2 linked regions of the Homo sapiens genome follow. The protein of the gene in region 1 purifies or fractionates together with the protein of each later gene. This does not show direct contact. Each region holds a gene or a part of one and is shown on either strand. Other genes may lie near its edges.

Region 1 (2,603 bases):
AATGCTTTCATAATTGATACTACGAAAAGCATTTATAAAAAAGATCTTCAAATTGGTAACTTATAACTCCTAATTAAACAGTTAATAAACAAATGGCACTTTGTTTCTAGAATTTTTTAATGACCAAGTGAAAGGCTCATATTTTTCATTTCAGTCCCGTTATTAAAGAAAAAGACCAAATTAAAAAAAAATTTTTTTAAGATAAAATATCTTGCTGTGCCTATGATACAAAGAAATTATTCACAATGGAGATTTTAAAGTGCTTATTTCCTTTATTGTTTAGTATGTTCTTCTGTGCACTTTAAGTGAAGAAAAACTGTATTGACTTTTATTTATTTTTTATTTTTTTGAGACAGTCTCACTCTATAACCCAGGCTTGAGTTCAGTGGCATGATCTCGGCTCACTGCCACCTCTGCCACCCGGGTTCAAGCAATGCTCCTGCCTCAGCCTCCTGAGTAGCTGGGATTACAAGTGCCTGCCACTGTGCCTGACTAATTTTTGTATTTTTAGTAAAGACGGGGTTTCACCATCTTGGCCAGGCTGGTCTTCCACTCCTGACCTCGTGATCCACTCACCTCGGCCTCCCAAAGTGCTGGTATTACAGGCGTGAGCCACCGCTCCTGGCCCACTTTTAAAAATATACAAGATACAGGCAGGCATGGTGGTTCACACCTGTAATCCCAGCACACTGGGAGGCCGAGGCAGGTGGATCACTTGAGGTCAGGAGTTTGAGACCAGCCTGGCCAACGTGACAAAACCCCTTCTCTACTAAAAATACAAAAATTAGCTGGGCATGGTGGTGCATTCCTGTAATCCCAGTCACTTGAGAGGCTGAGGCAGGAGAATAGCTTGAACCCGGGAGGCTGAGGTTGCAGTAGGCCACGATCGTGCCACTGCACCACAGCCTGGGCAACAGACAAGACTTCATCTCAAAAACAAACAGAAAAGAATATATGAGATACTCCCTTAGATCACAACCTTTCTTCACCTATTTTAATTAGCCTTATAATACCAGTGTATTCTTTTCATTTTTCAACAGGGATGTGTATGGGGTGTTGCTTACAGATTGCCAGTAGGAAAGGAAGAAGAAGTAAAAGCATACCTTGACTTCAGAGAAAAAGGAGGCTACAGAACCACAACAGTCATTTTTTATCCAAAAGATCCCACAACAAAACCATTCAGTGTATTGCTATATATTGGAACATGTGATAATCCTGATTATCTTGGTCCTGCACCTCTGGAAGACATTGCTGAACAAATTTTTAATGCAGCTGGTCCAAGTGGAAGAAATACAGAATATCTTTTTGAACTTGCAAATTCTATTAGGAACCTTGTGCCAGAAGAAGCAGATGAGCATCTTTTCGCTTTGGAAAAATTAGTAAAGGAACGTTTAGAAGGGAAACAGAACCTCAATTGCATATAATTTAGTCTTCAGAGAATTAACTTCAGTGCACAATGACAATATGATTTGGAAATACGTTTACTTAAAGATCTTATTTTTAATGTAGTGAGGATATTATTTAAACTTTTATTTTAACTGGAAATGTCCTGAAACACATATTTAAAATATTGGGATACAGTGAAAGAAAAATTCAAATTTTAATAACATAAAGATTTCCTAACTTTATGTTATTGAACACTTACTCACTAGAAGTGAGTTCTTTAGAAAAATACAGTGAAGGACTCAGTTCAGTCTTGTTTTTATCAGAGTGATAATCATCCTGTTTCACATCCCAATACTATTTTGAAATTCTAAACAATTAAACCAAAATTCCAATAAATATAAGGTTATGCCTTCAATATATTCCTATACAATTCTGTAACCATGGTTTAAAATACACAAGCTTAAAATAACATGCTTAGAAATACACAATAATATGAACAGTATTTCAGCCTTAATTGTGAATTTCCTTGTTATTCAAGTATTAAATGAAATCTTTTGAGTTTTTAGCCAAAAATTGGCATTTTTAAAATACGAAAATTTCCTTGGAATTATAATGTACTGTACCTCTTCTTTTTTAAATAAAGGCATTTTACTATATGGAAAATAACTCACTAAAGCATAAATTACATTATACAAATCATGATCACTAATGATGTAGTCTGTCATTCACTTTGTATTAATCTTATACCAAAACTGAAAAAGATGGGCTGATACTACAAATTAATGGCACATATAATGAAAATTTAGTTTTTAAAACAGCTTTTGGAATTCTTTGTCTGTCACTATCTCAATTTGTGTGTGTGTGTGTGTATATACATATATATACATATAAAATTTTTTTTTTCTTTGCAGCCTGCGTCTGGCCATCCCACAGGCTGGAAAGTGTAACCTCTGGCAGAAGCCAAGAACAGGCACCTCCTGGAATTATAATTTTGTTTTGTTTTTTGAGACGGAGTATCGCTCTGTTGCCTAGGCTGGAGTGCAGTGGTGCCAACCTCAGCTCACTGCAGCCTTCACCTCCCAGGTTCAAGGAATTCTCCTGCCTCAGCCTCCCGCGTAGCTGGGATTACAGGCATGTGCCACCACGCCCGGCTAATTTTTGTATTTTTAGTAGAGACGGGGTTTCACCATGTTGGCCAAGCTGGTCTCGATCTCCTG
Region 2 (3,736 bases), on another chromosome or scaffold:
GGCCCTGTGCTAAGCTTTTGACATCCCATTTCATCCTCACAGCCACCTGGACGGTAAGTACTGCTGCTAGCCTCACCCTAAGGACGAGGGAAATCAGGCGCAGAGAAGTTAAGTAACCCACTCAGAGTCACACTGTGTTAAGGGGTGAGCTAGGTCCAGCTCTTTCTCACTCTGAAGTCTGTGCCCATGACCTCCAACTGGAGTCTGCCCCTGCAGAAGCCGTTAGAGAGGAAAGCCTCCAACTCCTGCCCCTGTGTGGGAGCCATCGTGGCACAGCCCATGTCTTTGTGGCCGAAAGTGAAATGTCCCCATCTGTAGCACCGCCCCTCTGGGTCTACCCACCTGGCCTTGTCTGGTTAACTTCGCGCCTCTGCTCTCAGGCCCTGCTATGCCCCCTTCTATCATGAAATCTGCGTCTGCAGAGACACCAGGGGATGGAACCTGGGGACCCCTGGCCCACTAACCATGTCCCCATCCCAGCCTTCACGGCTGGAGAAAATGCCTGGGGTCTGACCCTGGGCTTGGCGTGTCTTTTGTCAGATGCTCCTGAGCACCTGCAGCATAGCCCCTGCCCCAGGCCATTGCCCAAAGCCCCTCCTCCAGCCTAGAATCCTACCCGAAGGGTGTGTCGGAACTGGGGTTCTTCTCTTCAAGGGGAAGGAGCTCCCTCTGACCCCTGGCCCTGCTCCAGCTGCTGGGAGCCTGGTCCCCTGCTTAGTCTCCTGGCTCTGCACCTCCATCACCCACAGCCTGGCACAGCGGGCCCAGTGGTGGGTCCGGGCAGCTAGGCAGCTGAGGCTGGGGTGGGAGGCTGCCCAGGGCCACCCAGCTGCAGGGTGCTGAGCTGGCACGTCTTCCACCTTGTCACCTAGGGCACTGCCTTACCCTCTGCCCTTCCTTCCAGATCCCAGTCACCCAGGCCTGCCTCATGGAGGACATCGAGCAGTGGCTGTCCACTGACGTGGTATGTTGGGGCCCACTCCTCACCCACACAGCAGGAGGACCCGTTGTTCTCACCAAGAAATGACCCATGGGGCCAGGGTAGACTTATATAGCATATAGCACCCTGAGAGCAGAGGGGCACACTTAAAGTCCCCATCTCCTGCCACCTGCCCACCTTGTGTTTGGCACGCCCCCCAGAGAAGTCCTGGGCACAGTAGCCTCTCGGCTGCTTCCCAGAGCCTGCTCCCAAGGTGAGGTCCCAGTGGGTGTCAGCCCACCTTAGGGACATCAGGCCAGGCTAGAGAGGCTAACCGAGGAAGCATAACAGCGCCAGGCTCTTACCTGCAGTAGCTCAGAAGACTCCAGCCACTTGCAGAGGGAACCCATCACCACCCTGTTTACAGATCAGAAGACCGATAAGCAGCTGTCCTCTAAGGGGAAGCACCCAGGAGGAGGAGGGCGGGTGCCAGTCATGGGGACCCCAAGCCCTGCCACCCTCCCAGGGAGCAGAAGGGGCAGGGCCAGACTCAGCTTCTCCGTCCAGGGCTCCTACCGCAGCATCTGCCACCCCGTCTCTGGGCACCAAGGCCCACATGGGCACTTCAGGCCCAGAAGCCGCCTTCTGCAGGTGAAGAGACCATTTCTGCCCAGGACTAAGCCACAGACCAAGGACTCAGGCTTTCTGTCTGGTGGCAGAAGCCTCACCCCCTCCCTAGTTTGCAGTGTTAGCATGAATGGCCCTCAGCCTCTGGATGTCAGCCTTTCCCCCCCAGGGGTGAGGACCACCCACCCCTTGTGACCCTCCAAGGAAAGGAACCAGCACTCATCAAGGTCCCACTGGGCACCAGGTGCTGGGCTTGGCGTGCTGTGTGTTATCCCATTTCAGCTTCCCAGCAACCCTCCAAGTTAGCTTCAGCCCCCACCCCGCCCCCATTTTACAGAAGGAAAACACAAGGCTCAGGAAGTCAGGTGCCACCCAAGGAAGGTCCTACGGCTCAGGGAGGAGCCCAGGTCCAGGTCCTGGGACCTGGGTGGTGGGGGCGTGCAGAGCCTGAGCTGGGACCCAGTGCTGAGGTTCAGCGGGGCCCGAGCTGCAGCACCACTGCCCCAGGCTGACCGTACTGGGGGCCCGGCTAACCTCTGCCTCCTTTCCTTCTACCTTCCCAGGGTAATGATGCGGAAGAGCCTAAGGGGGTCACCAGCGAAGGTAGTAGTCCCCGCCCCTGCCCGCCCTCTCCTTTCCCCAGGGCTCTGGCCTCAGGGCCTACCCTCACCCTCTCCCCTTCCTCTAGAATTTGACAAATTCCTGGAAGAACGGGCCAAAGCCGCGGACCGATTGCCCAACCTCTCCAGCCCCTCAGCTGAGGGGCCCCCGGGTCCCCCATCTGGCCCAGCGCCCCGGAAGAAGACCCAGGAGAAAGATGATGACATGCTGTTTGCCTTATGAGTGTGGGGTCTGGCACCCTGCAGCCCAGGTCCCCACTGCTCTCACACCCTTAGGCTGGGACCTCCCTCCCTCCTCTGGTGTTAAGGCTGCTTTGGGGGTGGCTTGTTACCCCCTTTTCCTCCTCTTTGAAGACGGAGCTGCCCCAGCTGTGGCTGGGGGTGTGGAGGCAGTGGGATGAACTGGGGGACAGGTCTGCGCTGCAGTGGGATCTGGCTGCTCTGCCTCCTTTCCCACCCCAGCTGACCATGAGACTTTGCTGAGAAGTGGAGGCCCCAGGACAGGCTGGCTGGCTGGCTGGCTGCTTGACCCAGTGTGACTCTCCTTCACTGAGTGATACCCTGCTCCGGGCCCATGCCCCAAGGAGCCCTTCAGAGCCCACACTGCCAGTCGAGGCCTGGCTGGAGGCTGGCCACAGTGGAAATTCTGCCGAGCCTCTTGTCCCTTCCCTGCTCTGCTGCATGGGGCCCCATGGCTTTGGCTGGCCACTGAGGGTAGGGTGTGGAGGTGTGGAGGCCCCCTGAGGAGCTGCGGCGGCCCAGGTACGAAGCTGCAACTCTGCGCGCAGTGGGCGAGATCTCATCAGCCCCAGGCTGCAGGTGAGGCTTCAGGGGATGCTGGGGCCCCACTGCCCCTCCGCTGCCTTGCCCTCCATCCTTCCTCTGTTCCTTCTGGCCGGGCACCACAGCACTGGGGCTCACCTCTTGGTTGATCCTCTTGTACTGGGAGAGGTGCCTTTTGTATCCCCAATTAAAGGTAGAAAACCACCCTGCTAGCAGCATTGTCAAGTCTCCTGGTCAGAAATGACTTCTTGGCCTCACAGAGGCAGCGACTACTTTGGGCAGGGCTGGGGGCCATCCGAGAGGTGAGCATCTGTAGATGGTGCAGGCGGAAGGACAGGAGCAAACACCCAGCTACACTACGCAGGTGCCGCCTCCTCCCACCTCACATGGCAGGCTCCAGCCACCGCCCCTGCCCGGAGGATGCATGCCCTCCCCAGCTGACACCCCTCCCTCCTCAAGGCACCTTCGTGCTGCTGTTCCATGAGGCCAGCTCCTGCCCTGCACAGAGCACACTAATCACAAGGGCGGGGACCTGTGTGGACTGTGTGCGCATGTGGGGTGCACAGGCCACAGGAGGATGCTGGCCTTCCGAGGCTGGGTGCCAGGCACAGCCTGGGGCTACGCACTGGCTCGTAGCATCACAACAGCCTGGGAGAAGCAAAGTGAGCGTCCTCGATGTATAGATGCGGAGACTAGGACTCCATGAGCCGCCCAGCTCAGAGGAGGAAGCTCATGCAGTTGTCATGTGCCAGCATTTCCTCATGCAGAAGCGCATCCTCCCCATTTT

Evidence for each region. The genes of interacting proteins can lie anywhere in the genome.
Region 2: the proteins of CHAC2 (region 1) and TOM1 purify together in Homo sapiens (affinity purification with mass spectrometry; one large-scale study listed by BioGRID and IntAct). This does not show direct contact.

The regions. Positions count from the first base shown.
Region 1 is NC_000002.12:53,773,102-53,775,704, forward strand, and holds the end of CHAC2 (glutathione-specific gamma-glutamylcyclotransferase 2), read left to right. Parts: intron 1-1,040; coding exon 1,041-1,424; 3' UTR 1,425-2,095; downstream 2,096-2,603. UniProt on the Homo sapiens protein: Catalyzes the cleavage of glutathione into 5-oxo-L-proline and a Cys-Gly dipeptide. Acts specifically on glutathione, but not on other gamma-glutamyl peptides.
Region 2 is NC_000022.11:35,344,821-35,348,556, forward strand, and holds the end of TOM1 (target of Myb1 membrane trafficking protein), read left to right. Parts: intron 1-904; coding exon 905-964; intron 965-2,109; coding exon 2,110-2,149; coding exon of another isoform or gene 2,150-2,152; intron 2,153-2,234; coding exon 2,235-2,389; 3' UTR 2,390-3,153; downstream 3,154-3,736.